Linked DNA regions of Homo sapiens: region 2 is linked to region 1. The links come from fine-mapping of genetic effects on gene expression. A gene starts in region 1. The other region holds a variant in brackets. All regions are shown on one strand. Distances are between the middles of the regions. Region 1 holds the start of BRCC3 (BRCA1/BRCA2-containing complex subunit 3). Region 2 has its middle 61 kb from the start of BRCC3.

Evidence for each region. PIP is the estimated chance that this variant, and not a neighbour inherited with it, causes the effect.
Region 2: its variant is fine-mapped to the expression of BRCC3 in blood mononuclear cells (TOPMed, PIP 0.96).

Annotation. Positions count from the first base shown.
Region 1 is chrX:155,060,405-155,076,015 of GRCh38, reverse strand. It overlaps BRCC3 (BRCA1/BRCA2-containing complex subunit 3), which reads right to left and starts at 4,508. Exons shown (of 11, transcript NM_001018055.3): 1 at 4,366-4,508; 2 at 3,673-3,689; 3 at 2,585-2,639. The coding sequence starts at 4,488. It overlaps CMC4 (C-X9-C motif containing 4), which reads left to right and starts at 4,880. Exons shown (of 3, transcript NM_001018024.3): 1 at 4,880-5,322; 2 at 11,983-12,050; 3 at 14,025-14,394. The coding sequence starts at 11,993. The coding sequence ends at 14,173. MTCP1 (mature T cell proliferation 1) reads left to right here and starts at 4,880. Exons shown (of 5, transcript NM_001018025.4): 1 at 4,880-5,322; 2 at 9,959-10,110; 3 at 10,227-10,397; 4 at 10,479-10,530; 5 at 10,617-11,982. The coding sequence starts at 10,006. The coding sequence ends at 10,526. RefSeq lists enhancers at 3,525-4,246, 4,203-4,252, 4,263-4,482, 4,247-4,968, 4,953-5,252 and a silencer at 4,593-4,912.
Region 2 is chrX:155,123,718-155,141,300 of GRCh38, reverse strand. No RefSeq gene overlaps it. Among named protein-coding and RNA genes, the nearest start is that of BRCC3, 61 kb to the right of the region's middle. The variant G/A (reference allele first, on the strand shown) is at 11,508.

The DNA of each region.
Region 1 (15,611 bases):
AAAAAATCTTCATAGAAAAGGCAGACAAGTGTATCCATTCCTTGATTATTGTGGGAAGTGGGGGGAACAGATTTTCTACAGGTGCCGAATGGAAGTAGTAAAGTGTGAATGAGGTGTCTGGGAGACAACTTACCCAACTGATTTAGATACAGAGCTTGAGGTGAAATGGCAGATGGCAAAGCTAAGAAAGTTGGAGTGAGAATGTACAAGACCTCAAATGCCAAGCCATAATTTGCAGGATGAACTCGAAGGAAAAAAAATTATTTCAGATAAACTGTACATGAAGTAACAATGAAGTACTGGGCTAAGCAGATGGCAGAGATGGAAGAAACAGATTTGAGACCCATTAAAAAGAATGAATCTACAAGATTTGGTAGCTTATGGACCATGGGTGATGGTGGACAGGAAACGGTCAAAGAGGACTCTAAAGTTTCAAGGTTGAAACTAGGTAGAACGTGTGAGGCAGATCTAAGTTTAGAAAGGGTCAGGAAGGAAAGAAGATGAGCTTGTTTTCAGATGAGATAATCTGGGATGAGAGATATACAATATGGCAATTTTTAGCAGGCAAGTGGGATTATAGCTTAGACTCAAACAGCATCAATGCAGGAATCAATAAAGCATTTATGAGTGGACAAAAAAGGTGTGGAGAAAGGGAGCAGAGGTCTTGGCCTGAATCAAGGGGAGTGGCCACATTTAGTGTGGGGAAGAACAAGAAGGGCCAGGGGAAAGAGTGGGCTTAGCATTATCAGATGTTGAAGGGACAAGGGTGAAATCTGAGAGAAGGCTTTTGAAACAAGCTATAGATTTTCACTGTGCAACAGGTCTGATTTCAGATATGCAGCAAGTATGAAATACACATGGAATTCAAAGACAACACAAAAGAGAAAAAAGGAATGTAAAATATCTCAACATTTCTTAATATTCACTACATATTAAAATAATAATCCTTCAGATACTTAGGTTAACTAAAATACACCCTTCAAATTAATTTCATTTATTCCTTTTTACTGTGATTACTAAAAAATTTAAAATTATGTATATGGATCACATTCGTGGCTCACATGATATTTCTTTTTTTGTGGTTTATTTTTGTTTTGTTTTTCAACTGAATACTCCACTTAAAAAGATTATCACACTGGATTTTTTAAAAAGTATTTACCACTAATAAGAGACACAAGAGACACATTTTAAATATTAGTATACAGAAAGGCTAAAAATAAAAGGATAAAAAATACACTATGCAACACTAAAAAGGCAGCTTAACTAATAAAGTTTAATATCTAATTTAGACAGTACAAACTGACATAAAACTCAAGACGAGGGCATGAAATCTTGAATAATAAAATTACATTATTAAGATTGGAATGTATCTTAGTAACTGATGCCCAGGGTGAATTGTTTCTTTCTCTCTTTCTTGCTTTAGTCAGAGATTTCAGTGCCTAAGAGGAATGAGTAATATTTAATGCATAGACAGAGGAGGAAGAGGAGTCCACAAAGGATTGTGGGAAGGGGGAAACAGGAATAAAGGCAATACAACAAAACCAACAAAAACTCATGAGAGTTTAGAGATTCAAGGAGAAAGATGAAGATAAGCACCAGGAAATAATCCACCGAAGGTAGAATTAGAAACCAGACCTCAGTGGGTTTGACTGGGGAAGGTGAAGGAGTAGTAATTGTAGCCCATTCTTTTAAGAAGTCTGGCTATTAAAGGAAGGATATAAGAGTACTGACTACAGGAAGATACGGGATTAAGAAGTAGCTTTCCTTTCTGAAAATGAGAGTAATTTAAGCATATGTTTATCCTAAAAGAACCAGGTGACAGGGAGAAGACCCAGAAAAGAGACAGAACATTTGATAAACAAGGTCTCTGAAGAAGCTGCAGCTTTGGATAGGAAGAGGACTTATTTCTTTGATATGGGAAGAGATGCAAAGTGATTAAGGTGGAGAAGTTTGTAACTAGTAGTAATAAGTAGATGAAGGTGTGGCCTGATAACTTGGTGGGAGGAGGGGAAGTAATTCATTTTTTTTGTATTTTACAAAAGCATCGGTCTGTGACAGACTGGGGGAAACGTTAACTGGTCCGATACCACGATTAGGTGAGAAGCATTACACTAGACCATCAAGGCTAGAGCATGCCACAAAAGATGGTGTAGGAGTGCAGATAGGAAAAAAGTCAAGGCAGACTAAGAACTATGATGCTATGGTCAGTTTGCCTGTTTAAGAAGAGAGGGCTGCATGAGTAGATGTTGGAATTCGAGATAAAGAGGTAATAGTGATGTGAAAGTATCAAGGATGCCAAAGTATCAAGGAAAGTGGGAGAAGGGCCAGAAAACAGGCAGTGACAGCAAGGAGAGCAGCAAGAGGGTGGTACTGACAGTGATTATTAATCTTGATCAAGTAGAGACAATTTGCTACAAAGAACAGAAAATTAGGTCCCATTCCTAGTGAGTAGATTCTTCATCTGATTTTACTAGAAAGAATATCTCATCCAGCCAGAAACCGCATACTCTGGCTGAGATCACTGGATTACAGAAATCTTTCCCCAACTGCAAGTTTCCATCATGCAAAATTTTAGCACACATACCTTTTCAGCAACTGTGCGCATTTCAGTTCCAGTATATGCAAATTTGGAGTCACTCCTACTGGGAATAAATTAGAAAAAAAAAAAGGAAGTGGGGTTTGGAATATAAAAAGGAATTAAAGCAAAATAACAGGATTAACTGTTTTTGCAATGAAATCTTAGCAGAGACCAAAGAAGAGGAGGGAAACTGAATTGAGGCTAGAGCTGCACTCTATCTGTTAGAAGCAATCTGGGACACATGCACAAGTGGCTGAGTGTATAAAGTTATAATGGACAAAGCTAAATTCCTGGAATCCTGGGAACTAAGGAGGTGGGCTTGAGAAGTATACTATGGTATGATTTGAAGTTTAAATTAAAATGTTACCGAAAGGTTTCACCACGTCAAGTATTGAAGCTACTGGGGATCTCTGAGATCACTGAGGTCCATCAGGAGGAAAGGCAATGTCACTGTCAATTTACGTGAAGGAATGGATCAATGGGGAAATGCCTCTAAACGTATATGCTCTCTGTCACTAAGAAAATTACTGATATCTCACTGGCATTTAAGGGGAGACAGAACATGAAATACACTGAGCAAGGCCAGGTGTGGTGGCTCACGCCTGAAATTCCAGCACTTGGGGAGGTCGAGGTGGGCAGACTGCTTGAGCCAGGAGTTCGAGACCAGCCTGGCCAACATGGTGAAACCCCGTCTGTACAAAAAAAAAAGACAGCCGGGTGTGGTGGCGGGCACCTGTAATCTCAGCTATTCGGGAGTCTGAAGTATGAGAATCGCTTGAACCTGGGAGGCGGAGGTTGCAGTGAGCAGAGATCGCGCCACTGCACTCCAGCCTGGGCGACAGAGTGAGGCTCTGTCTCACCCCTAAAACGCAACAATTATGATAATGCTTATTAAGATGTTTATCCCATATCTCAACTGAATAGGAGGTAAGGCAGAAACCAAAGTTCAAGGTTGTATCATTAAGGGAGCCCCGGAGTGATAATGGTAATTAATTTAAGACACGATCCGGACACAATACTGCCAAAGTCGCCATAATTTTAGGTTAACAATGACTTAGAGATTATAAGATATGAGTAAACAAATACAGTCTTACCTTGTATCATCGTTCAACTAGAGTGGGAAAAAGCAAAAAACATTATTGATCACATTACGTTTGTTTGACATATATGGATGCAGATTATATGACAATTAGGTCATGTGTTCACGCACATGGTATGAAAGACTGGAGAATTACTTTAGACTGTAAACAGCTAAACTGTATTTCCTCATCCTCTTCGGCCCCTCCTCAACACAATGCAGCGGAAACTTTTGCTTCCTTCAAGCCCCGCACCTTCTGTTAGGCTCTTCGATACCCTTCAAATGCTTTGGTTGATATCTCTGCTCCCTAGACAGAAGACTCGAGGCGAGGCAAGGGGCTCTAACTGTGGTCAGCTGCTGCGTCGTAATACCCGGACATCCTCATTATACTCCAGTGTCTTTCTGACCTGCCTTGCAGTTTTGGTCAACCGGGCGAAAAGCGCAGATCTAAAGAGAAGCCCCAGGCTACAGGAGAAAGGGCAAGGCTCCCGGGGCCTGTACAGACCGCCGGGGGCTCGCAGGAGACTAAACAAGTGTCAGGCGGCCAGAAGAAACGGGGCTCCCCGCGACAGAGCTATGTAAAGGGTGTCCAAGGACCTAAATCGAGGATGCCTGTGGCCTCCGCAGCCCTGGGAGCTGCCGGCACCCACCCCGGGGACACACTGGGACTGCTCAGCAGGGTTCCATCCAGGCTAACAGACCTACTCACCTCCCCTATGCACAGCCCCATTACTTCCTCCTTCTCTGTGCTCAGAGCGTGGTTGAGACAAACGAGGAAAGCGTCAGACTCGAGATGAACCGCCTGCACCGCCTGCACCACCTGCACCGCCATCTTGGCCCGACCCTTCTCACGTCCGCCTCGGGCCCACTTGGTCCTGACCAACCGGGTGCTGCGGCGCAGCCTCCCCAGCGCCCAGCGCTGTGCGCTCCGCCCAGGCCTGGCCTTCGGCGCGCGGGTTCCTAGGGGGCGGGGCTTAGGGAGCGGGCGGGGCTGTGGGGGCGGGGCTGTGGGGGCGAGGAGGGGGCAGCGGGCGCGCGGCTGGCGCGCGGGGGCGGGCCTTGGGGCACGGGGGCGGGGCCCGCCCAGCAGCACCTGGGAAACGCCCGCGCGGTTTGGGGCAGGCGTGGCCGTCGGGGCGGAGGGCGGTGGCCGGCCGCGGTCCGGGCGTCAGGCCGGGCGGCGGGGGCGGCAGGGAGGCGGCGCTCTGGGGCCGCAGGCGGACGTACTCTGTGAGCGGCGCCCGGGCGCCTGGGCAGGCGCCTCCCGAGTACCGGCGCCCATTTTGCCCGCCCGCTAAGGAGACCCGTGCGCGGCCTACACGCTTGGGGGACAGCCCTTTAAGACGACATCTCCGCGAACGCCGGCCTCTTGAGCCAGGGGGACGCTCTTTTGAAAGTCAGTCCCAAAACAGTTAAGGTTTTATTTTATTTTGTTTTATTTCCAAGTCACAGCCCCCGAATCTCGTACAACTCTCCCTGGACCACTTCCGGTTGCCGGCCCGCGCCTCATAACTTCGGTTCGAGTGACCTCGGCCCGGGATGCCCCTCGGCTCACCCCGGGCTCACGTCGCGATCCTGGCTTGAGTGGCCCAGGGTGGGAGACCTGGAAGTTTTAGCCTAGCTGTTCTCAAGGCGGATTAATTAGCCCAAGAAACATTATATTCATGTGAGTAACCTTTTGCAGAAACAGTGTTATACTGTATCTGAAAAAGTATCACTCTTAAGCTTGGCTGCTGCTACTTTCTACAAAGGCTTTTAGGTAGCTATTTGTTGGATACAGGGAAGGGGAAATGGAGAACTTCAGTTTTTATTCAAGTTCGGATGTATCACATTAGGTATCCAGAATGCAAGTTTCCTCGGGTCTCCTTGTCTCGATGATATCAGACAGTAAAAATATATGTAAAAGTAATTTTTATTTCGAGGTATGTCAAACGTGCCAAGGATAAAAGTACAGATCTTCCAACTCACAAGTCTAGGAATCACACGTGGATTTTGAAAGCGATTCTAAATCAAAGCACAATATATGCCGTGCCGCCTCCACAGCCCGTCCGTGTTCGTGTCTTTGATTTGGTTTTCTACTTTGTGTAGTTTTGAAGCCAGGCAGGTATGGCAGTACTGGAAAGGGAACATTCCCAAGGTGCTACTTGAAGTGTTGATGCTTTGCTCTTTTCTCCCAAGTCAGTTCCAACCCAAGTCTCCCCACACATAGGGTCCCCATCCAGTGCAACGATCTGTAATGTGCACGCCAGCAGCCTCCGTTTTTACCTAACGATCTGTAAGGATCACATGGCACATCTTTCTATAATTAATTTGATCATGATGAAGGTTGGAAAATTTTCGTGTGCAGTTACATTGGACCTGTCTAAATTTTCTCTTGTTTCAATTTTATATCATATGTTATTTTCAGTTACTGTTTGTGGCTAGTATGCCCCGTCCTCATGGAGCAGGAACGGCTGTTCTTATTATTATGACATTAACATTTGGTGATGGGATATAGTGCCTTTAGGCACTTTCAAGAAGAAAAATACCTTTTGTTTGTTATCGGCGGTAGTCAATCTCATATTCCAGAATGAGGTTCACTAACTTTTCTAATGCTCATGGCTGCCTTTTACAGCTCCAGGCATTTAACTGGAGTAGAACAAAATTATTAACATTTATGGCAAGCTTATTATATGCTAGATACTAAGCATTTATATGCCTGGTACATGTAAACTGCCCCATTTGGAGTCAAGCTCAACAACTTCCCCACTGTGTGACCTTGAGCAAGTTACCTAACTTCTCTGTGCCTTTCTTTTCCTCACCTTTAAGTGGGGATGATAATAATTCTGCCCACCTCATAGCGCCCTATGAAGATTGTGAAAATTAAATGAGTCAATATATGTAAACATATAGGAAATGCTAAATAAAGACTATCATGATTAATATGTTCTTTAATTCTCATTTTACACCTCAGGAAACTGAGGTGGAGAGACGTTAACTTGTCCAAGGTCACAAAGCTAGTAAGTGACAGACTCAGGACTCATACACAGGCCTGGGCCTGTGTTCTTGGTAATTTCACTCATTGTAATTGGACGAGTTTATTAATTGACTTCTAATAAAATAAGTGTATTCAACTGATCAATGTTTAAAAACTGTTCATCAACCTGGCAATTAAAGCAAACTATACTTTTTTAAAAAAGACACAAAAGAATTTATTCTGTAAAGGAAAAATGATAGTTTTACTTAGATTACTACCTAAGGAAGCCCTTCTATCTTATATGTCATCCATTTAAAACCTAATTTACAAAATGCCTTACTAAGAAATTGTCTGTCTTGGCCAGTGTGCTCTCTGGCCCCGAAATCAAGGTGACCCTCATGGGGACAATCTCTTCTAGTGGATGATAAAGTTATGCAGTTATCTAAACATTTTTGGAATTCATTTGTATTTGTAGCTGGCAGTATTCCTTGAGTTGAGTTGCACAAGTTTATATTCCATGTATTGTATTGCACCTTGTACCTAAGTCTATGTTGAGGTTTTAAAAGATTCGTCTTAGTTCGAGAAGTCCTGAATTTTGTAAACAAGTATCATGTGCAAATAAAATGTTCTCTAGTCAAATAAATTTGGGAAATGTTAACATAAAGTTTCTTTACTGCATAACTTGCCAGAACAGTTACTACACTAATGTGCTTTATGACTCTCCAAGATTCCCAAACTTATTTGACCAAGGAAAATGTTGGGAGCAAGTTTTCTAAGAATCACATTTTTCCACTCATAAAACCTGTGATTGTATAGGCTTTGATCTGAATCCCTCTCCCTCAGCCTTTGCATTTCTCTGCTGAGGACTTTGTTCATGCTCATATGGTGACTTCTCTGTCCCTTGATCACTGCAGTTGTCTTTCTCTGGGCCTGCATGCCCTCTGAATGCTAGCACACACAATTCCAGGATACTGTGCTGAGAGGTGGTTCCCAAGCTCATCCCGCTGATGCCCAGCATGTTGACCTTTGGGTCACAGCAGCACATCACACTGCCTTTCTTCTGAGAATATTTTGTAGTGACTCATAGGCCTCTTTGTAGTGACTCAGTAACTCAGACCATCATCTCCAAACTCTTTGCCCTCTATTCCACTGGCATTATTTCCTTTTAATGTCAATATAACCAATGCAATTTTGTTTTCCATTCAAAACAAATTTAAATGTCAACATGTTGGTTGTTGCTAGGACCTATCTATGAAATTGAGATGGTCCTGAAACCCTTAACACATGGTTTCCACTTTTTTAAAACAGTTATTGGCCACACTTAAGTCTTCTGTGCTTGAAATCCGAATTTAATATATTTTATTTTGACATTAGTATTTACCAGGTTTTTATTTGTATTTCTCTTTTCCAAAGCTCTGGGAAGGAAGAGAGGCAAAACAACTGTATCTGCAAATGGGAAAAAAGGGGGGCTTTGGAAAAAAATTATATATAGCCAGAGGCTTATGCCTAGAGAATCAATCTCTACCCACGTATACATAGCCAATCATGACAACCACTGTGGCGTTCCTTTGTTTCCCTTCCCTACCCACCATACATATACACCTGTTCACTGAAACATTGCTTGACCAGTACCTGAGACTTGGGGTGCCCAGAACTGTATCATTCCTGCTATTGAGCAGAATACAATACTGTGCTTTAGGGAAGACAGGACTTGTGAAATAAGCAAAGCAAATGTGTAAGGTGACTTTGTTTAAATATAAATGCTACAGTAGTCAAAAGAGGCAAGAATTTTCTAAAGTTTTCATAGAGGAGGCAGGCACCTGGACTCTGCTATAATAGCACTAAGATAGGCAGAGAGGCCCAGGGAGGCATTTTAGGCAAGTGGAAAACAAGAGCAAGGGTATGGAGCTAGAAATGAGCCTGGTATTTGGGGAAAGTTGGTCTCAACTGCAGTGGTAGTTGTAGTGCCTGCTGGAATTGGTGACATATAGGATGTAGCAACTGAATAAGAGGAAGAAATCCAAGATAATTCATAAGTTTTGAGTCTGCAGGATCAGGAATGGTGGTGTTGCCATTGAGAGAAATCAGGATTTGGTTAAAGAGAAAGTTTAGACGAGTTTGAAATGAGAGAGCACATATGTATGAAAACTAAGACAGGAGCTTACACCAGGCTCAGAGTCAGATGCACTCAGGGTATAATGGGTGAAGCATCTGGTTGCTCTCGACAGTCTCACTTTGAGGACTCTAACAACCACCCTCCCACGCTGCATTTCTTTTCCCACCTAATGAGAATAGCAGGTCTTTGTTTTGAGGGGCAGCTCCCCAGTGCCGTATCTATACTCTGGCCAAAGGTAGAAATACAGTACAACTGCGCTATAATGCTCTGAGTAAGGTCTAGAAGATTGACTCATGCAAAATGCACATCAAGTTATTGTGAGGTCCTGAAATGATATCTGGGGCTTGGGCAGAGGATCGTTATAGAGTTTGCCCTACCACTCAAATGCTTTGGGAGGTATGCTTCCTTTACACCTCTCAAATGTGCTTCTGGTCTTCTGGCTTAGGAAGTCAAAATTTAAACCTAGTCCTCTATGGAAAAATGGGCTCCTGTAACATCCTGCAGAATTATTAAAATAAAACAAGGACCTAGATGGATAACTTTCATTTGCACTCACTCAGCTCCAAATCAGCATGATCCCCAAAGTCTCTTGCAGCTCAGAAATTCCATGAAGCTAGCTTACTTTTCCTAACAAGAAAATCCCCTTCTAGAAATGCCCATCCGCTATTTGTAAACTTTCTTAGTAAACTGATAAATAGATCATTTGCCCTTAAAACAAACTTTTAATTTCAACTCTGAAAGACATGCATATATGTCCTTCAGAATCTTACCTTTTAAAATGGAAACTGCTTGGAAGTGGCTTTTACCTGGGGAATATGACATGCATGTGTCTGTTATACTGCCTTCCTGCCAAAATAAGTGTGTCTTTAGGCACGCTCTTTGCATATTCTATTGCTAACTACATTTTGCCAGACACTGCTTGTGAATGCAGTATGTGTGAGACCACTGCCCAGCTTCCTGTAGTGCTAGTCCTACATTTCCACAGAACTCCTCACCTAGCCAAATTCTTGAGCGCTTTGCAGTCAGCAGCACTACCTGAGGCTCTGCCTGAGTGTCACTTTAGTTGTCTTGCAGAAAGCTTCAGATGTCCTTGGTTCTATTTAGGTTGTGCAAATAGACATATGAGGTTTGGTTCTGGTTAGTGGTTGCTAGTACCAGATCACCTTGCTTACTGGTGAGTTCATTCAAACCCAAAAAGTCACACCTGTGTCCTGTGCGCGGGTGCTGCAGGCTTAGGTGGAGAAAAGCAGGGCTAGAATTGGAACCCAAAGCCCAGAATGGCAGGAGAGGATGTGGGGGCTCCACCCGATCACCTCTGGGTTCACCAAGAGGGTATCTACCGCGACGAATACCAGCGCACGTGGGTGGCCGTCGTGGAAGAGGTAACTGTTTACATTTTGCTTATTTCTTTGATTTTGCTTTCAAGTAACTTGGTTTCTATTCCAGTCTCAATATTCTGAAGTCTTTGGTTTTATTTTTGATCATTCCTTTCCATTAGGAGACGAGTTTCCTAAGGGCACGAGTCCAGCAAATTCAGGTTCCCTTAGGTGACGCAGCTAGGCCAAGTCACCTTCTTACCTCCCAGCTACCTCTCATGTGGCAACTCTACCCGGAGGAGCGCTACATGGATAACAACTCTCGCTTGTGGCAGATACAGCATCATTTAATGGTACACATGTTGCTTAATTATTTTCCATTGTACTGGGACTCTCGTAACAGAGTACTCCATAAACTTTTCTTTTTCTGACAGGTCAGGGGAGTACAGGAGCTGTTGCTTAAGCTTTTGCCTGATGACTAACCTGGTATGTATTTCTATTTCTCCTCTGTCCTCCCCCTCTTTGTTTTGGCTCTATTCAGTTGTGGTGATTTTAATGATTTTTTTTTCCAGGTGCTGGGATTCTACGAAGATATGCTCCTTTGTTCTGTTCAGTATTTGGCAATCACTTCATCCACTACTGCAGTGCACCCACCCTTGGGCCTGGGGGGAGGGAGTGGGTTGAAAAACTGCTCAAGAAACAGAAGTTTAGCAAGGGTCATGAAGAATACTGCAAGTGAAACTGCAGAGAGAGGTTACGTAGGCAGAAAGCAAGTCAACAAAAGCACTTAGTCAGGATCCGTAACTTGAAATTGACTCCTTTGGAAATTGCCATAGAACCCTTAATGGACATCATCGGCTGGACCTGGGATCTGATGAATCCCACAAAAGTCAGCACCTTCTACAGAACAGATGCCCTGATCACCAAGGACTTGGTACTGATTTAGAGAGAAGAGAGCAGCTCCTAGCAGCATCAACATCTATTTGTCGCTTATTTGCCCTGCAGCAATTCACCTGCCTTTCCTTCTCCCATCCTGTAAATATCCTAGGTTTTGCTCCAGTGTTTCCCATCCCAGTACTGACCTAATTTGGATCTGCTGAGTATTTAGAGGGCTCTGAAAAGAGATATGCATTGATGAAATTAGCTACAAAGGCTTGTGGGCCTTTTTTTCTATCTGAAATCGTGTCTTCAAATTACTGGAAGTTGCTGATCAAAATTGTGGGCTCTTGAATTCATTCTCTGATTACAGATATTTTAAATAAGCTGGTTTCTATAAGAACTTCAAGAAAAACCATTTTAGCTGCTTAACTGGCACCTTTCTCAGGAAGTAATAACACCAAATATTGCTGATTCCTAGGAAAACATTTACTACTTGTAAAGAATTTCCTGAGTTAAAGTAGTTATAACAGTTTATATACATTAAAAGTAAGGTTTTACTTTAAAAAAAAAAGTCTTGGGAATAATAGCTACCATGTATTGGAGTCCTTTCCAGGCACTATTGTATGTACTTTATATACTTTATCACATTTAATCCTCCTGTCAATGCTTTGAGGTAGGTATGATTCCCATTTTATATATGAGTAATAAAAAAAGCTCAAGGAGTTTAATCATTTATCAAGGGTTTCTTCTGCGAATGATAGAGCCAGGCTGCGCCGTCGGCTCCTCTAGCCTAACGTTGGTTTACAGTATTCAAAAAGAGTTGATTGAATTCAAGGTTTTTTTTCCATGTAAAGCTATTTATATCTTCCAAGCCTAATGAAATGGATATTATAAAAATACAGTTGATTCATCCTATGTTTGGGAAGAGTATTTTTAGTGTAATTATTTTCCAGCAATTGTAAGGGCATATACTGCTTGTCTCAGAAGAAAATTCCACGTAGAGGGGCTTTAAAGTCTTTATGGAAAAAAGAAAAATAAAAATCATTTTTCTTGTTTTAGTTTTCTGGATATGCCGCAGAAGGATCCGTGCCAGAAGCAAGCCTGTGAGATACAGAAATGTTTACAAGGTAGTATATTGTAAAATGCTTTAAAAATATTTTTCCACTGTGAACTAACTATAAGAGACCAATTATTCTTTTATCTGTATTAACTCTTTTTTAAGAATGTAACGTATATGTAATTATCCTGAAGATTCTCTTCATTGTATCATCAAAGATGCAGAAAATAAAAAGTAATGTGATCAAAGCTAGGGGTTTTCACTCCAGGTGATTAGCATCACCTGGAGATCTTTAAACACTTACCTAGAACAATTCAGACTTCCTAGGGCTAGGGCTAGGAAAAAAAGGGTTTTTTGTTGTTGTTGTTTGTTTTTACTAAAAGGCTAGTTTTAAATTGGTTGGTTATACTTCACTGCAGCTGACAATTCACTTTTTAAAAGCAATCTGGAAGAGGTGCGGTTGAAATAACAATTGGAATTCAGGCTGCCAAAGTCATCAACTAACTCTTAAAGGCAGAAGTGAATCTCGACTAAAGCATATTTGAGGTGATTTGTCCATTTGTCCAGCTGCTAAGTTTGACCAAATGTTAGAGGATTTTAGTTTTCTAATCAGTGAATGACTGTTGCCAGAAGAGCAAATAGAAAAAGCTATAAGGCTATCTGAATTTGAAAAAATTTTAATAAGTTTTCCTCACTAGTAAAGTAATAGATGGAGATGGAAGGTCATGAAAATATAGAAAGGTATGAAGGAAAAATGTTCAGAGTTCCCCCAAAGATTCACCACCAAAGAAATCCTTTGTTTGTGTATCTCCTTGGACTTTTAGCTTTCATTCTTGGACTTTTCATTTTTTGATGTTAGCAATATTTTATAAAATCTTTTAGATTAAAATCTGGATGTATAATAATGCCATTTTAGTCAAACTTCTTCCCTCCAACTTTAAGGAAAAGGAAAAAGTTTTTTGCATTTAATTCCTTCTCCCAAATAAAACCTTACCTTGTTTGAAATAACCCATAGCTAAGGGAAAAAAATAAGTTAAAAAGAGCTGGTGACACCCCCTTGGCAGTGTGGGAGGATTAAGAACTGGAAAGACTAAAAGATGACAAGCACCGTTATAAGGACTTTATACGTATTAAGCCTTTCATCCATGAGGTAGATGCTACTATGACCCCCATTTCATAAAGGGGAAAACAGACACACAAGTTATGTAATTTGACTAGGGTCACATAGCTAGTAAGAGGTATGGTGGGAATTTGAACACCCCCCGCCAACCCCGCCCTTGGTCTAGCTCCAAATCTGGACTGTTACCCACCTTGCTATACTGCCTTTCTAATCAGAATTGTCTTTCCTATCCTGAGCTAACTACCATGTACTCCATTTTAGTACTGGGGGACTCATTAACTGCAGCTGACCTAGAGTCTTTAGGTCAGGTCCTCCTTAACTTAGTGTTTATGTATAGTAGGGATCTGCAAATGTTTTATGAAAAAGGCCAAACAAGTAATATTTTAGGCTTTGGAGGCCAAAGGCCTTTGTTGTATATATTGTGTATGTGTTGTGTGTTTACAACCCTTTAAAAATTAAAATCCATTTTTAGCTCCCAGCTGTAAAAACCGGCTGAATTTGACCCTAAGGCTGCAGTTTGCCAATTCCTGATGCACAGCCTTAGTAGGGGAGGTCCAACAATCAGCTTAAACTGTATGCAAAATAATGTGTGGTGTATGTGCATTTTCCTAATTCATCAAATTAGTGACCAGTAATAAAAATGATGTTAAAAACCAATGTCCTAGAAAAAGGTGCATACATGCTATTAACCTTAAAGGAAATTATATATTAAAATAGCTTTCAACCACTTTGTAAATCATACTTTCCCTAACGAACCTGTCGACAGGTCTCTAAATTAGAAAGAATTCAGTGGACTTTGGTATATCTTCTTTCTTCCAGTTCCATAGGTACTGAAAGTGAAAAGGGGTGGGAAGCACTGATCTAAACCTCCCTGTACCTTAGTCCTATGAGATCATGACTAGAGTCTGCCTGTATGTTTTTCAGCCAACAGCTACATGGAATCAAAGTGTCAGGCTGTCATCCAAGAACTGCGTAAGTGTTGTGCTCAGTATCCCAAGGGAAGATCTGTCGTCTGTTCAGGATTTGAAAAAGAAGAGGAAGAAAACCTAACACGGAAGTCTGCATCAAAGTAAAGTTCTTCTGAAGTGCTGCTCCATGTTTCCACCAAATGAATTTTTTTTATCCTCCTGACTCTTCAGGCCAGGTAGCAGCAAATAGCAAATGAAAAAGTCAGCTACAAAAGTTAATGAATATGCCATCTATGCAGAACAGGCAGAAATATAAACACATTAAAAGACAAATATGTAGAATGTAATATACTGAGCTGCTAAAATAAACCTGTTTAAGAGAAAAATTTGGGTTTTGTACTAAATGTATTTTAAGACTATTAGATATAGGGTATTAATGAATTCTCTTGAAGTTCAAGCCACTAGTGCCATTCATCAAATTTAAGTCATATGAGGTATGTTAGGTGAAAGGACTCACTTCCAGCATCACAATTTTGACGCCCTTTTTTTTTTTTTTTTTTTTTTTTTTGAGATGGAGTCTCACTCTGTCATCCAGGCTACAGTGCAATGGTGCGATCTCGGCCCACCGCAACCTCTGCCTGCCGGGTTCAAGCAATTCTGCCTCAGCCTCCCAAGTAGCTGGGATTATAGGCATGCACCACCACGCCTGGCTAATTTTTGTGTTCTTAGTAGACGGGGTTTCACCATGTTGGTCAGGCTGGTCTTGAACTCCTGACCTCGTGATCTGCCCGCCTCGGCCTCCCAAAGTGCTGGGATTACAGGCGTGAGCCAATTTTGATACCTTTTATAGATTACATGCTAAACTAATTCAAAGTTTCCTTTAAACTAACTCATTACCTTTTGTACTTCCAAAAATGCAGAGCAAAAAGTGTCTTTCCAGATGCCAGTAAGAGCATTTCTTTCTGCTTTTGCATCCCCACTGCAGCGACTAACCAGGTAGGAAAGGCATAGAAATGATTCTTGTAATGCTTAATGATCCTTAATTTATCATGAAGGAACTGAAGAAAAAATTTTCATTGGAAGTCAGGTAGGCAGCAAGATAATTCAAACTTAGTTGGTTTATCTATTCTTTATATCCTGATAATAAAAACCTGTTACAGAGGATCCAGACAACATTAATACAAAGCTGCTGAATGAAGCCTGTTGACAGCTGTCAGTCACTTTATGAAGTAGGAGGAGGCAGCATGCAACAGGCCATTTGCTTTCCTCAAATGGATGCTTGAACCACCAAAGGCTGTCCTCTAAAAAAGAAAAAGATGACTAAAAGCAGGAACAATTTCTGCTAGGTCCCTGATGTTAAAATACCATGATTATTTGAGACCAACTGTTTTCTTTAAAGCAGCATTACTCAAAGTGTTTCTAGGAATTGCTGTAACCGGAAGAAAAAAAAAAGGCTTCTCTGGTCAGGTAAGTTTGGGGAATGCTAGGTTGCATACAAGTACACAGGTTAATTTCCTGTCAGACTTCAGAGCTTTCAAAAAACCTAAGTGAACCTGTTTTGCAGACAGCATCTCTGTGTGTGAATGCTCTCCAGAGCGACTTA
Region 2 (17,583 bases), 64 kb before region 1:
TTAGTTTCTGTACACACAAAAAGTTCCTTAATGATTGTCATTATGAATGTATACTTAATTCTATCGTTCACCTTGTATCTATTTCAGGAACATTGATTAAGTTGCGCACAATCACATCCTGTGCTGGCCAACATAAAGATTTGCAGCTGCCAACTCTCCTCTATTTATATACCCCCCAAATAAACAAGGAGTTAAACATTAAAGCTCATGTGAATACACACTGTTTCCCTCTAAGACTTTCTATTTAGCCATGCCCCACTCTTGATTTTGAGTAATTTTAAGTTACGGAAGTATACAAATAATAATATGATACATCTGTGGACCCCACTACCTAGAAATGATAACTGCTAACTTTCTGACATATCTGCTTCAAGTCTATTATTAAAATAAGAGAAAATAAATGATTACGGATAAAGCCCCATCCCTGAGATCCATTTCCTGCTTCTACCTAGAAGTAACTGGTATCATAATTTTAATGCATTATCTTTATAATCTATTTTCCTCATAGTTTCACATGTATTTGTTCCATGGACAAGTACTGTGTGTATTTTAAATTTTTTACGTAAGTAGTTTTGCACTCTAAGTGTCATTCTACAATTTGCTTCTTCTATTAGCATTGTTTTTGAGGTCTAGCCTTACTGGTATACAATCTCATTTAATGTAATACAGCATTTTATTGTATAACTACACTAAATTTTATCTGTTCTCTAGTGATGGAAATTTAGGTGATTTCTAGTTTTTCATTATTATAAACATGATGTGAGAAGTGGATTTGCTGAGTCACTGGGATGGGCATTTTCAACTTTCTAAATGTGTCTCAATGTTCTCCGCTCCACAGTGATAAACTGCAGCAGCTACATGTATCCACAGAGTATGTGAATTCCCATTACCTCAATGTCCTCCCAACTATTCATACTGTCAGAAATTTTAATTTTTGCTAATATGAGCATGTTCTCAGATGATTATTAGACATTCTGTTTTCCTTTTCTATAAACCCTCTGTTCATTTCTTTTGCTCATTAGTCTATTGTAGTGCCTTTTTCTTACTAATTATGTATTCTGAATATTAACCTTTAGTCTATAGTATATATGTTGCAAATATCTTCTTTTAACTATGGCGCCTTCCCTACCCAAATGTCATAAGCATATTCTCCTACATTTTCTTCAATTTTATCTATTTTTTGAATTTAGATATTTCATCCATGTGGAATTTATTTTTGTATATGGGGTAACATAAGCATCTCATTCTCATTTTTTCCATAGGGATGCTGCTTGTGCCAATAGGCTTTATTTTAAATTCCTTCCCCCATGCTTTTCCCCACATTTTTTAGTGCCACCAAGTTCCCATATAAGTGTAGTTCTATAACCAAGCTCTCTATTGTGTTCCATTTATATATATGTTCTATTTTTTACCAGTACTCTGCTGTGTAATTACTGTTGCTTTATAATGAGTTTCAAAATCCAGTCAATTTCTAAACCCTGATTTTTTAATACAAAACTTACTGAGGGAAAATGCCTGTGAATTTAAAGTAGAAAATAATAAGTAATTTAATGTTATGGAGCATTCCAGTTGTTCTGTAAAATATAGAGAGATGGGTAGGTGATGAGGTAATATGCTTAGGTGTAGTCTCTCCTGTCAAAGTAAAGCAAGTATGAGGTAACACATTTCTAAGGGGCTTTTTGGGGTCTAAATCCTCTAAAGAATTGACAGAAATATCCACTCTATTATGGACATTGTTATCCAGTGGCTATTTCATCAGTGACTAAAATGATACACCTCAAAGAATACTGATCACAAAGATATATTCATTAATAAAAACAGATAAAAATATTTTAAATACATACTGCTATTCACTTCTCTCACTTGCCACTAATTAAAGTAAAAGGTAGTAAGCCCTTGACAAACCAAGAACATTTTGCAATTGCATGCTTACGCTCACCTCATTTCCGTGCACCATGAGGTGATGTACAGTAACCAGGGCTTTGAACACCACCACCCAGCTACTGCTCCTAGTTTTTTCAGAAAGAACATTAGCCAGATGTTCAACGCTTATGTTAGTTTCACTGATGTACTGTATTAGATCTAAATTAGAGACAATGACAAGCATTAGAATACAGACTGAGAAATAATTTTCAAAACCAAAATTGGTAATTTTAACTTAAGTACAGATGCAATCAAATGTTGGAGAAATGACATAGGGAATCCTCAAAAACATTTTCTTCATTACATGTATTACAATTTGCACTGTTATATGTTACATGATATTTAATGCCTTTAGTTATCTTGCATACTTGATGAGGGGAGGGAATGAATCCATTTTGGTCCTCAAGGCCCAGCAAAGCAGATGGCACATAACAGGTTTTGGTCAATACTTATTAAATGAATGAACAGTACTGAAGAAGGTAACATACCCAAGATCATACAGGTAGTTAAATGGCAGGGCTGGGATTTGAAACTAGATTTGTTTGACCCTAGAGACCAAGCTATTAACCACTGTCACTACTTCTCTCAAGAAAACTGTCATTCCATGAAGGTTCAGTTAGGAACTTTCTTTGTACTGTCACTCCATCTCTGATCCTTTTATCTGCATCCCGTATCCTTTTATTTATTGCTTCTTTTTCTTGAGTCCACTACCTCATAACTTTGTACCTAGTTTATTGTGACAGCTTTTAAATTTCTGGCCTCATGCCTATAACCATTCATGAATTCATTTCATACAGCCCCTCAAAAGTTAAGTTTCATAATTTGATTTTCACATTCAAGAACATGGCAATGATTCCCTACTTTTTACCAGTTCAAAATCCTCTTTGCTTTCAAAACTGTCTACAAACTATGATTATGGCACAACTTCATCCATGGCACTTATTCATTAATGAGCATTTCTTTAGGTCTTCAGAAGCCAATTCTGGCATATATTACATAAGTATCCAGGACTGTATAATATATACAGAGAATCTAGTATGTGGCCTGCTGAGAATGATGCTTTGCAAACATATATATATATATATATATATATATATATATATATATATGAAATTAATCTCTATTTAACTTAGTAACTTGCTGTAACACATGCACATTAGCACGATGATAAGAAGATAAAACTTCAGAAGGCAAATACAGATTAAGTCAATGAATAGTTTAAGCAAAATACCAACATAAAGGGGTGATCAAAACAGTGAGCTAGCTGTGAAGCTTTCAATAGCTGTAAAATTTAAGTATACTCTGCCAATAGCACACATTGTTTATCAAGTCACTGCTCACTACAAGCTCAAACAACAGGGAATGGGGCTAGACTGGGTAGACTGGGAGTCTATCCTTTGAGCAACGGGTCACTCTAGGAATCAAAAATCTTCCTCCTAGAAACATACACAGGGCACAAAAATTGTGCCATGGACACTCTAAAGCCTATTCATGGACGTTAGGTTAGGAATACCTAAGGGAGAATCTATTCAATAGACTTTCCTTCAGAAGACTCGCTGAATGTTACAATTTATAAGGGCACTGGGGTGAACTTGGGAAATGAGACCTTTCTAAGAAGCCTGGGTTATTATTCCACCCTCTTTGTCTCCTATCTTAGTTGAATAATTTCTAAATATTTTGGAATTTGTAGTTAAAAACACCAGAGGTCGCTGTGGGAGGCTGAGGCAGGCGGATCACCTGAGGTCAGGAGTTCCGAGAGCAGCCTGACCAACATGGAGAAACCCCGTCTCTACTAAAAATACCAAATTAGTTGAGCGTGGTGGCGGGCTGCTGTAGTGCCAGCTAGTCAGGAGGCTGAGGCAGGAGAATCGCTTGAACCAGGGAGGCAGAGGTTGCAGTGAGCTGAGATCGCACCACTGCACTCCAGCCTGCAACACAGCGAGACTCTGTCTCAAAAAACAAAAAACAAACAAACAAACAACCCACCAGAGGTTCCCCTCTCTGCTCAAAGATTACTAGAAATGACAGCTCAAACTCCCCCTCCTGCAGGGACGTGGAAAAGGGGAGGGCACTGAGGGGAGGGGGAGGGGGAGGGGGAGGGGGAGGGGGGAGCGGAAGGAGAAAAGGTGCAGCCATTAGGAGGTTCTTCCCCACTCAGACTGCACTAGCTGCGTGGGCTGCCCATACCCGGCCTCCTACTCACCAGCCAGTTTCGGCTCAGGCTCCATGGGCTCATCGGTGGTCGCCCCGAGGGCAGCCTTGGACGCAGATAACCCCATGTGCGAGTCGAGGGTGATGGCGACAGAGTCCAGCCCCACCTCTTCCAGACCCTGAGCAGGGTACCGGCACCCCTGGTTTTGGACAAGGAGCCCCAGGTGACGGAAGAAATGCCTGACCCTGCAGGGAGCCCTCAGCGGGCGACCTTACTTCATGCAGCCTGACGCAGACATCCAGCATTATGAGGTGGGATTTGAACTTGCGAGGAGCTCGGGCTCTGCAAGAATGCTGGGAAAGATGGCTGCCCGGCCCAAGAAGGCAGGTACCACGCACTTGCTTGGTTTCTGAGGGCAAGTCCAGGTTTGGGGCAGGGCATCTCTGGAGGAGCTAGGGCGCTTTGCATAGTACATGCCACAGTAACAAAATAAACAACAACCATTAACGAATATTATGAGGAACGGGGACATGTTGGGGACTCCATATGAAAGCTCTCGAGATCTTCAGGTCTTGGGAAGTTAGGTGATCCTATGACAGTACCTTGGAAATTCTTGATATGGCATTGTTAGGGAAGCTTCAGTCACACATTATCAGGGCTGCAGCCTGCTTGAGGTCATGTCTTCCTACTCTTCAGGCAGCACCAGATTCACAAGTCCATAGAGTTGTTCATAGTATTTCTTTATTATCCTTCTAATATCTGTAGACTCTTTACCGATGTTACTTCTCTCACTCTTCATATTGGTAATGTATGTTCTTTTTTTCTCTTGATTGGTCTGCCTAAAGAGTTAATTGTGTTGATCTCAAAGAACCAACTTTTGGTTCCATGGGATTTCTCTATTTTCTGTTTCTATTTCATGAACTTATGCTTTTTATTATTTCCTTTCTTCTACTTGCTTTGGGTTTATTTTGCTCTTTATTTTCTGGTTTCTTAAGGTAGAAGGCTAGGTTTCCGACTTGATGTATTGCTTCTTTTATAATATAGACATTTACTGCTAAATACTGCTTTTGTTGTCTAAACACCTTTTTCTGACTTTGGTCTTTTAAAATTTGAGATTTATTTTATGGCACAGAATATGGTCTATCAAGGTAAATGTTCTTTTTTTGTTTTTTGAGACGGAGTCTCGCTTTGTCGCCCTGGCTGGAGTGCAGTGGCGGGATCTCCGCTCACTGCAAGCTCCGCCTCCCGGGTTCACGCCATTCTCCTGCCTCAGCCTCCCCAGTAGCTGGGACTACAGGTGCCCGCCACCATGCCTCACTAATTTTCTGTATCTTTATTAGAGATAGGGTTACACTGTGTTAGCCAGGATGGTCTCGATCTCCTGACCTCGTGATCCGCCCGCCTCGGCCTCCCAAAGTGCTGGCATTACAGACGTGAGCCACCGCGCCCAGCCATAAATGTTCTTTGTAAACTTGAAAAGATGTATATTCTTCTATTATTGAGTGGAGTGTTCCAATTAAATGTGTATTACACTCAGTGATTTTGTTGTTGTTGTTTTGTTAGTGAGAGAGGGTTCTGCTCTGTCGCCCAGCCAGGCTGGAGTGCAATGGTGCAATCTCGGTTCACTGCAACCTCTGCCTCCTGGGCTCAAGCCATCCTCCCACCTCAGCCTCCTGAGTAGCTGGGACTACAGCCATGTGCCACCACACCCAGCTAATTTTTGTATGTTTTGTAGAGATGGGGGGTTTTGCCATGTTGTCCAGGCTAGTCTCAAACTCCTAAGCTCAAGTGATCTGCCCGCCTGGGCCTCCCAAAGTGCTGGCATTACAGGCGTGAGCCACCACGTCTGGCCACTTCTTGATGATCGTATCACAGTTCACCAAAGCTCTGTTCATTTCCATTTTTTAAGAGCCTTCCTCCTACCCTATGCTTCAGTTTGGAGATTTTCTTTTGTTATGCCTTCAAATTCACGGATCTTTTCTTCTGCAGAGTCTGATTTGCTGTTAATCCCATCTAGAACATGTTGCGTTTCTAATATTGCATGTTTCATCTCTAGAAGTTCCATTTGGTTCTTTTTATATTATTCAACATAATGAGAGTAATGAAAGATTTTAAAAGAATGAACATTCTCCTTTAAACCCTTGTGGATATTATAATAGTTATAATGGTTATTTTTAAATATTTGCTAATTCCATCATCTTGGGCATTTCTTGGCCTGTTCCTATTGACTTATTTTTGTCTCGTGTATGGGTCACATTTTTCTGCTTCTTCCTATACCTAGTAATTGCTGATTGGATGCCAGATACTGTTCATTTTGCTTTGTTGAGTGTTGTATGTTCATGTATTCCTTTAAGGAATGTTGAAGTTTGTTTAGACATGCACACACATTACTTTTAAATCACATCTTTCTAAGGCATATTTTCTTAAATGGCTTTATTGATATTTAATTCACATATATCTTCGTTATGAGAAAAGCCTGGCACTGTAACATTCCCTCAAACTGGGCCCCCCAAACTGGGAAGGAGCCAAGGTACCAAAGAAGTCCATCTTAGGAGTTTATTAGGACTTACATACAGGGCACTCCTGGGCAGCAGCAGGACAACTCCAGAGATCTGCCCTGCCTCCCATCTCTAAGCTGCTTTTAAGCTAATTTCCTGGCTCTTTGCCTACTGTGTGCAATGAGACTGTTTGCTGTAGTGGGTTCCCAGATCCATTCCAGGATGTTTGGGTTCTCAAGGACACCTGCTCCTAGGCTGGGCACCATGGCCTTGGCTCACCGCCAAGCCTTGAAGTTTCAAGCCGTGGACATACACTCTTAAGTAACATGGTGGGGGGCCCACCACACTACAACTTTTCCCTCATTTCGTGTAAAATTCAGTAGTTTTTAGTATATTCATAGAGTTGTGCAACTATCACCAAGATCAATCTACAGCCTTTCCACCACTTGCAAAAGAAACCCCGTACCCATTTGTTTTGACAACCCCCAGCTAAATTGGGTTTCCAGTACCAGAGCAGCTAGCAACCCTGCCCAAACTCTGCAGCTTTGAAGAGCTCATTTATTAGCTCTAATAGGTTTTGTGTGTGTGTGTGCATGCATTCTTTAGGGTTCTCCCTATATAATATCAAGCCATTTGCAAATAGATACAGTTTTACATCTCCTTTCCAATTTGGGTGTCTTCCCCTGCCCTCAACTGCCCTGGCTAGAATCTCTAGTACAATATTAAAGTGGCAGGAAACAGCATCCTTGTCTTGATTCTGATCTTATGCAGAAATAATTCAGTCTTTCACCATTAAGTATGATATTAGCTGTGGGTTATTCATATATGGCCTTTATCAGGTTGGGGAAGTTCCTTCCTCTTTGTAGTTTGTTGAGTCTTTTTCTCATGAAAACGTGTTGGCTTATGTCAAATGCTTATCCTGCACCTGTTGAGATGATCATGCAGTTTTAGTCCTTTACTCATTTAATCTGGTGTATTATATCGATTGATTCTTGTATGTTGAACTGTCCATGCACTCTTAGGAAAATTGTCACATGGTAATGGGGCCTCATTCTTTTTATATGTTGCTGGATTAGGTTTCCTAGGATTTTGTTGAGGAATTTTACATCTATATTCATAAAGAATTATTGGTGTCTAGTTTTCTTTCCATATGATGTCTTTGTCTGGTTTTGGTATCAGGGTAGTATTGTTCTCATAGAATGAGTTGAGAAGTATTTCCTCTTCTGTTTTTGAAGAGCTTGTAAAGAACTGCTGTTAATTCTGAACTGGTATATGAATTCAAATGTTTGGCAGAATTCACCAGTGAAGCCATCTGGTCCTGGGCTTTTACTGGTGGAAAGTTTTAAAACCAGTAATTCAATCTCTTTACTTCTCATAAGTTTATTCAGATTTTTTGTTTATTGGTAGGTCAGCTTTGGTGGTTTTTGTTTTTCTAAAAATTTGTCTACTTCATCTATGTTATCTAATTTATTGTAATATAAACTGAATTGTTGAATTCAGTTTGTTAGTATTTTATTGAGGATTTTTGCATCAATATTCATCAGAGATACTGGCCTATAGTTTTCTTAATGTATCTTTGTCTGGTTTTGGTATCAGGGTAATAACCCAGGGATTAGAATAAAAAAATCTTAGAAATTTACCTGATGCTCTGTTCTACTGTGGTTTAGCTGGCACTTAAACCACAAGACGAAGTACTTCCCACTCTTCCCTCCCCCTTCCACAGGCAGAGGTGCCTCTCCCTGTGGCCACGACCAACCCTGTCCCTTGGGGGGCTCTTCCAGGCCATTTCCAACATTCACTTAAAGCTCCAGGGCTCTTCATTCAGCTTGTGGTGAATGCTGCCAGGTCTGGGACTCACCCTTCAGGGCAGGGGGCTCCCCTCTGGCCCAGAGCAGGTCCAGAAATGCTGTCCAAGAGCCTCCTCATTGTTCTACCACATTGTAGCTGAGCTGGTACCTAAGGAGCAAGACAAAGTTCCCTTTACTTTTTCCTCTGCTTTTCTCAAACAGGAGCCTCTCATTGTAGCCACCACAGCTGGGAATGTGCTGAGTCTTACTTGAAGACAGCACATCTCAGAGCCCAAGGCCCACAGTATATTCCCTAGGTATTGCTGCTGGTTATTCAAAGCTCAAGGGCTCTTTAGTCAGCAGGTGACGAATCCTGCCAAAACTGGATTCTTCCCTTCAAGACAGTGGGTTCCTTCTTAGCCCAGGGTGTGTCTAGAAATGTTGTCCATGAGCTAGGGCCTGGAATGGGGGCCTCATGACTGCCCAGTGCTCTATCCTACTGTGGCTGAGCTGGTATCCAAGATGCAAGACAAAGTCCTCTTTACTCTTCTCTCCTTAAACATTTCCTTGATGCTAGCTGCACTGCTTGGTGTTGAGGGAGGGGTACTGCAAGCACTCCATTAGGTATGTGTCTCACTAGGTCATGTGCCACCCTAGTCCACAGCTCAGCACTAGGACTCACCTGGGAATTGCAGTCCTTGTGTCCTAGACTGCCTTCCAAATTTACCTAGAACCCCAGAGCACTTTGGCCCATGGTGGCGAGGCCTGCAAAAACTTAAGGTCTGACCACTGGGAAGGGCAATTCCCCTCTGGTTAGGTCTGGTCCATATGCTCCCTACCTGCAAATGCATGGTCGCTACCAGGAGATGGAGGAGGGGTGCTGTCTGTGAGTCAAGACTGTCTCTCCTATCCTCTTCAATGACTCTCAGAAATATTAAGTTAAAACCAGGTACTGTGATTGCTTACCTGATTTTTGGTTCTTGTGACGATGCTTTTGTGTGTGCAGATAATTGTTAAAATTTCGTGTTTCTGTGTGGGGAGGGAGGATGAATGGCATAGGCTTCTATTCTACCATCTTGCTTTGCCCCTTTGGATATAATTCCCGTTTTCTTTTTGTAAGGTTTGTAGTATTGTCTCCTATTTCATTCCCAATTTTAGAAATTTGAATCTTTTATTCATAGTCAGTCTAGCTATAGGATTGTCAGTTTTGTTGATCTTTTCAGCAAACCAACTTTTGGTTTTATTGATTTTTCTCTATTGTTTTCCTGTTCCCTGTCATTTGTTACCACCCTAACCTTTATTATATCCTTCCCTCTGCTAGCTTTGGAATTAATTTGCTTTTTTTCAGTTCCTTAAGCTGAGAAGTTGGGTTATTAATTTGAAATCCTTTCTCTTTTTTACTGTAGGCATTTATAGATATAAATTTCCCCCAAGCGCTGCTTTCATTGCATAAGTTTTGGTTTTTTTTTTTCATTTATCTCAAAGTATTTTCTATTTTCCCTTATGATTTCTTCTTTGACCCAATGGGTATTTAGGAATTTATTGTTTAATTTCCATAACTTGGTGAATTTCCCAAATTTTCTTCTGTTATTGATTTCTAATTTTATTCCATTGTGGAGAGAGAACATACATTGTATAATTTCAGTCCTTTAAATTTATTGAAACTCGTTTTGTGGCCTAACATATGATCTAACTTAGATAATTCTTCATGTTTAGTTGAGGAGTATGTATATTCTGCTGCTATTGTTGGATTAAGTGTCTTATAAGTAAGTTGTCTGTTAGGTCTTCTTGGTTGATAATGTTATTCAGTTCTTCTATTTCCTTGTTTATCATCTACCTAGTTGTTCTATCCACTATTGAAAGTGGTGTATTGAAGTCTCCAACAGTCATTGTTGAATTTTCTATTTCTGCTTTGATGCTGTCAGGTTTTGCTTCATGTATCTTAGGCTCTGTTGTTATGTGCCTATATGCTTATATCATCTTCCTGGTGGATTGACCATTGTAACTTTATAAAATGCCCCTATTTGTCTCTAACATTTTAAAAAATCTATTTTGTCTGATATTAGTTTAGCTGTTCCAGCTGTTATGGTTGCTGTTTGCATGATATATCTTTTCCCATCATCTTAACTTTATTTGTATCTTTGAATTTAAAGTCTGTATCCTGTGAACAGCATATAATAGGATTTTTTTGTGTGTATTCTAATAATCTCACTCATTCATTTATATCTAATTACTGATAAGCGATGATTTATGCCTGTCATTTTGCTCTTTGTTTTCTATATACCTGTGTCTTTTGATCTTCTATTTCTCCATTACTGCCTTCTTTTGTGTTACATATTTTCTAGTATGCCATCTTAATTCTTGTTTCTTTACTATATTTTTAAATTATTTCCTTAGTGGTTGCCCTGGTGATTACAATTAACATCTTAACTTAAAATCATCTGGTTTTAATAAATACCAATTTAATTTCAACCATATTAAAAAAATTTGCTCCAACATGGCTCTATTCTCCTCTCTTTTGGGCTATTATTGTCATACATATTATATATTTTTTACATTATATGCCGATCAACACATCCTAGAATTATTGCTTTATGCAGCTGTCTTCTAAATTAAGTAGAAGAAAAAAGCGTCACAAAAATACAACATACCATGTCTTATATTTATCTATGTAGTTACCTTTACCAATGATATTTATTTCTTTATGTGAATCTGAGTTACAGTCTACTGTCCTTTCATTTCAGCCTGAATAACTCTCTCTAGTATTTCTTCTAAGATAGGTCTGCAATGGCAGTCTCTTGTTTTTCTTTCTGGGAATGTCATTATTTTTTCTTTTTTTTAATTCAATCCAACAGATCCACTGGTAAGGGGATGTCATTATTTTACTTCATTTTTGTAGGATAATTTTGCTGGACATATAATTCTTCACTGACACTTTTTCTTTCAGCACTTTGAATATGTCATCCCACTGCCTTCTGGCCTCTATGATTTCTGACAACAATTTGGCTGTCAATATTATTGACGTTCAGTTGTATGTGATAAGTCATTTCTCTTGCTGCTTCCAAGATTCTGTCATTGGCTTTAGACATTTTGACTATGAAGTGTCTAGGTGTGGGTTTATCCCTCTCAAAATACTTAGAGTTTCTT[G/A]AATATGTAGATTCATAGATTTCATCAAATCTGGGGAGTTTTTGGCCATTACTTCTTTATGCCCCTTCTTTCTTTAGCTAGAACTCCCATTGTGGGTGCATTGTTAAGCTTGATGGTGTCCCACAGGTCTCTGAGGATCTGTTTGTTTTTCTTCATTCTTTTTTCTTTTTGATACTTGGGTCTCTGATAATTGACCTATCTTCAAGTTTACTGATTCTTTCTTCTGCCTGCTCAAATCTGCTGTTAAGTCTCTCTCATGAATTATTCATTTCAGTTATTATAGTTTTTAGCTCCTGAATTTCTATTTTGTTCCTTTTAAAAATTTTATCTTTGTTATCTCTATTTGGCGAGATATCATTTTCCTGATTTAATTGTTTATTCATGGTTTCCTTTTGTTCTTTGAGCATATTTACAACTGTTGATTTAAATTGTCTAGTAAGTCCAAGACCTGGGCTTTGTCTGGGACAGTTTTTATAAACTTTTTTTTCCTGTCAGTGGGCCGTACTTTGTTTCCTTGCATGCCTCATACTTTTTTGTTTAAAACTGGACATTTTGATGTTATAATGTGGTGGCTCTGGAAATCAGATGTCCCTCTCCCCAGGGTTTGCTGTTGTTGTTTAGTGAATCATGTAGCTGGGACTACAGGCACTAAAATTATAAAACCTATACAACATATTAAAGTTTTAGAATTATGTTAAATGAAGAAATCCACATGCAAAACTATAAGATGCATTAATACTAGAAATGAATAACAGAAATAAGAAAGAGAAGACCAAAAGGACTACCAAAAATGAGTTATTTTGAGGAAATTATAGGTTTCTCTTCACATTTTTCAAGTTTCCTTTATTATATTACTTTTGTGATTTTAAAAATCGGACACTTTAATTTTGTATTAAGAAAGTAATACATACTCATTGTAGAAATTCAAAACACAATTTACAGAAGAGTTCAAAGTGAAAAATAAGACTTCCCCCTGGCCTTAAGCTCAGTAGATTTTAAAAAGTAACTTGTTATAAACTTACCAAAAAGTTGGAGGAATAGTACAAAGAACTCCCATGTTCACTTCATCCAGATTGTTCAATTGGTAACACTTCACATTTCTGCAGCATGCATGCGTGCATGTGTGTACCACCATTATCATATGGCTTTTTCTTAACCATTTGAGACCAAGTTGCAGACATGTTCCATCAGTCCTAAACACTCCAGTGTACAATTCTCAAAAACAAAGACACTCTTGTACATAACTACCACATTGTCAAAAAAAGGCCAAGCCCAAGAGTGATTGATTTGGCTTCTAAAGTAATGACATGTCCTTTTAAGATTCAGTTTATTACCTACATAGACAGCAAGAGGAAGATGGGCCAAAGGTGCCAGCTCCCCATGTCCTTGTTCCCTGCACCAAACAGGACTTCTGAAACAAGGCCTGCATGTTTGCTGCACCAGTTATGGGACACTCCCTTGCTGAGGAGCCCCTTTTAGACTGCAGCTAGCAGTTTTATATTCTGTAGCTATACCCTGAGTGGGGCAGAGCAGATAGCCTCAGACCTCAATAGTACTCAGATGAGAAACTGTCTGTCTCAGTGGCAGCCTCCCAGGAGAGATTAGGAGGTTAGAGATAGCCTTGAAACAGCACCTCACCACCCTCCCATCCTCTTGTGTTCTGGGAGGATCATGATACATCCTGCCAAGACTCAGATAAGTTGCAATTCAAGCCTAGCTTGCATAGATATATGCATGCCAGGTCACAAGGGCACCATGGCAGATCCACTCTCTACAGCTCCATCCCTCACTTTTCAAATAGCTAGCTAAGAATTCTCAGGAGCATAGGCCACCCCATCAAATTACTCTAATTAACTGTGCTTATAGGGGCCTTAACCAAATACATTCTGATTGTTTTGGGCAACATATACAAGAATGAGTCTCTAATTAGGCCCACTTGGAGGATACACACTGCAGCTAGGCTCCCCAACTGGAGCCAAGCCAGTTAAATATTTCATTAACCCAGGTGCAGTAAGGGATGCTGACAGTTGCACATATCCTGCCTTGACTGACCAGCAGGAAGTCCTGGGTAATGTGTTATTGTCCCATTACCATGTACATTAGAGACAATAGACCACTTTGTGTGTGGCAAGCTAGTATAGGTAGCTTCTTTTCATGTAAGAAGTTGTAGTGACCTCAGCAGTGCCATTGTGTTGAGTTGGGATCAGGGTCCAATTCTATTAAGCTCTTGTACAAAAGAGTTTTGTTAGTTTCCAGAAAGTTAATCTCATTCTATCGTTCTGAATGGAGGCTGTTAACTACTTGAGTCAGCAGTTCCTGGGAAGTTTCTGAGAGTCCTTAGATTAAGATTTGTTGGCCAGCCATTGAGTTGAAAGTGGTGGTGGCAGTCTGGGCTAAATTGTCCAGAGGCTCTGCAGACAAGTAGCTGAGATGTTAGCGGCCCCTCCTCTGCCTTCACAGAGTTTAAAGTGTGCTCTCTCCACCAGTCAGGACTGTTGCCCTCCTTTCACAGCCATGTGATTGATGTTACCAGTCCTTACAGCAGTCACTTCACCCTTTTCCAGTCCTTTCCTTGTCTTACCTACACCTTGCTCCTAAATTGTGTATTAGTCCATTTTTGCATTGCTATAAAGGAATACCTGAGGGTGGGTAATTTATAAAGAGGTTTAAATGGCTCACAGTTCTGCAGGCTGTACAGAAAACATGGCATCAGCATCTGCATCTGATGAAGGCCTCAGGAGGCTTACAATCATGGTGGAAGGCAAAGGGGGAACTGGTGCCTGCTGCCTGGGAAGCACAGATCTGATGAGTGTGTGGATTCCAGTGATGTTCATCCTCAGGCTCCTGGGTCTTGTGCCATCTGCTGCTGTAATGTTTGTCTCACAGAGGCTGAAACATGATCATCCAGTCATCTTGCTGAAAACTTCCTAAGTCTAGTAAGAGATTTAGACATCCAGATACAGGAAACTCAGAGATCCCCAAATATATACAATTCAAACTGTATAAGGAGTTGGGTCTTTTTTTCTTTTTAAACAAAAGCAGACATTACAATAACCAATAGCTGTTGCAGACCAGGAGCTCATTTTATCTCCTTCGCAGGGAGCTTAGGGAGCACAGGTCAGAGCGGAAGAGGCCAGCCTGCAAGGTCAGCTGGAGCTGCAGGAAAGTTTCTTCTTTTGTGTGTCTTTTAAAAAAATAAACAGCTTTATGGAGACATAATTTATACACAATTCACCCATTTAAAGTGAACAATTTAATGACTTTTAGTATAGTCATAGAGCTGTACAACCATCACTGCAGTCAACTTAGAATATTTTCATCACCTCAAAAAGAAACCTCATCCCTCTTAGCCATCAACCCTCTATCCCTGCTCCCTCCTACCCCTCATTCCTTTTTATGGCCAAATAATATTCCATTGAAGAACAGACTGCATTTTGTTTACCCATTCATTGGTTGATAGACATTTGGGTTGTCTAGTTTTTGTTTAAATTTCTGTCTTCAGTTCTGTGGGATATACACCTAGAAATGCCCTTGCTAGGTCTTATGGTAATTCTGTGTTTAAGTTTTGGAGGAGCCATCAGCCAGTTTTCCAAATTGTCTACACCATTTTATATTCCTACCTGTAGTGTACAAGAGTTCCAATTTCTCCACAGCCTCACCAACACTTGTTATTCTCTTACATTTTTATTCTGGTTAGTATAAAGTCATATCTCATGATTTTTATTTCTCTGGTGACTAGTAACGTCAAGCATCTTTTCATGTGCTTCTTCGCAATTTGTAGGTCTTCTTTGGAAAATTTCTATTTAGGTCCTTTGCCCATTTTTGAATTGTGCTGTTTGGTTTTTGTTGTTTTCAGTGTTCTTTATATATTTTGCATACTAGACTCTTATACATAGGATTTGCAAATATTTTCTGCCATTGTCCTGAGTTTTCACTTTTTGATCATGTCTTTGGATGCACAAAATTTTCTAACTTCCATAAATTCCAATTTATCTATTTTTTATTTGTTGCTTGTACTTTGGTGTCATATCTAAGAATCCATTGTAAAAACCAAGATCGTAAAGATTTACTACTGTTTTCTTATAAAGTTTTTATTGTTTAAGCTCTTGAATTTAAGTCTTCAATACGTTTGGAGTTAATATTCATTTATCGTGTGGGATCTCAGTCCAACTTCATTATTTTGCACGTGGATATCCACTTGTCCATTCGCCAGTTGTTGAAGACTATTCTCTCCCATAGTCTTGGCACCCTTGTTGAAAATCAGTTGACTGTAGATGTGTGGGCTTATTTCTGGACTGTCAATTCAATTCCATTTTTAGTGGAGGGTTTGGAAATCAGCATCTTGGTGCTAGCTGTGCTCATAACCACTGGGTGTCACTTCTAGTCCCTCTTGGTGGACGGAGCTGAGACAGATATGTACATATACACATACCTTTCTCAGCTCTGAGATATATATATATAGGGTTTCTGTGTGTGTGTGTATATATGTGTGTGTGTGTGTATATATGTGTGTGTATGTGTGTGTGTGTGTATATATGTGTGTGTGTGTGTGTGTGTGTGTATATATATATATATATATATTTCCTTTGAACAAGAGTTCATATTAATGAACTCTTTTCCAATTTTAATCCAATACCATGAGATTCATTTTACCCTTCCTCCTTTCCATGATTTTGTTTTGTTTTTTTTTTTGAGACAGAGTCTTGCTCTGCCGTCCAGGCTGGAGTGCAGTGGCGCAATCTTCGCTCACTGCAAGCTCTGCCTCCCGGGTTCACACCATTCTCCTGCGTCAGCCTCCCGAGTAGCTGGGACTACAGGCGCCTGCCACCATGCCCAGCTAACCTTTTTTTTTTTTTTTGTATTTTTAGTAGAGATGGGGTTTCAGCGTGTTAGCCAGGATGGTCTCAATCTCCTGACCCGTCTCGGCCTCCCAAAGTGCTGGGATTACAGGCGTGAGCCACTGCGCCTGGCCTTTCCATGTTTTCAAATAATTTCTCTGACATTGAGAAACCTAGCTCCCATTTTCCTCAACAGATTTACTTCTTCACTCAATCAACTTAGTTATTTGCTTAATGTAGCACACTGCTGGCTGCCTCCTCGCCCTGAGGGCACTGGCACAACATGGCTTCCACTGGATCTCTCCCCCTGCCCCTCCACCCAACCATGGAGCCACAAAGCTGGAAACTCTGACACCTCCATGCAGTAATCCCAGCCTGCTTCCTCAGCCATCAGGCACTTTGACACCTCCATGTACCTGCCCCTCCCCCAACATGTTTATCCTACAAATTACTCAGATTACTAGGCTAGAAAAAGAATTTCAAATCGCTGTAACTTTATCAATATAAATAGTTTAGAAGGTGATGGAGAGAGATGTTAAGAATGTCTATTTGGTTTCTGGTTTGTGCAAATGGATGTTACATTCACTATTCACTGAGGTAAGAAATGTTGGAAGGGAATATAGTTTAGATTGAAAACCATGATTTCAGATTTAGATATATTAATTTTTATGTGCCATTAAGACAGCCAAGTGGAGGCCAGGCACGGTGGCTCGTGCCTGTAATCCTAGCACTTTGGGAGGCCGAGGCAGGTGGATTGCTTGAGCCCAGTAGTTTGCCACCAGCCTGGGCAACATGGTGGAACCCTGCCTCTTCAAAAAAAATACAAAAAAATGAGCCAGGCATGGTGGTGCGTGCCTGTAGTCCCAGCTACTTGGGAGGCTGAGGTCAGGAGGTCGAGGCTTCAGTGAGCCATGATCATGCCACTGCGCCCCAGCCTGGGCAACAGAGTGAGACCCTGTCTCAAAAAAAATGTCCAGTAGAGAGGTGGAAATGTAGGTCTGGAGTTCAGATAGAGGCGTGGACAGATACAGATTTGTGTGTCAACTGCATATAGGTATGCAAAGATAGAGAAGTCTATGAATGAATTTGAGAAGGAACAGCTAGAGAAGAAAAGGATAGCAGGAAGGATAGCCAGAGAAGAAAATAAGAGAAACCAAGGAAGTAGATTTCAAGGAGGAGTGACCAACTGTGTCAATACTGAGAGGTTCATCAAGGATGGGAAAAGCAACTATTGACTT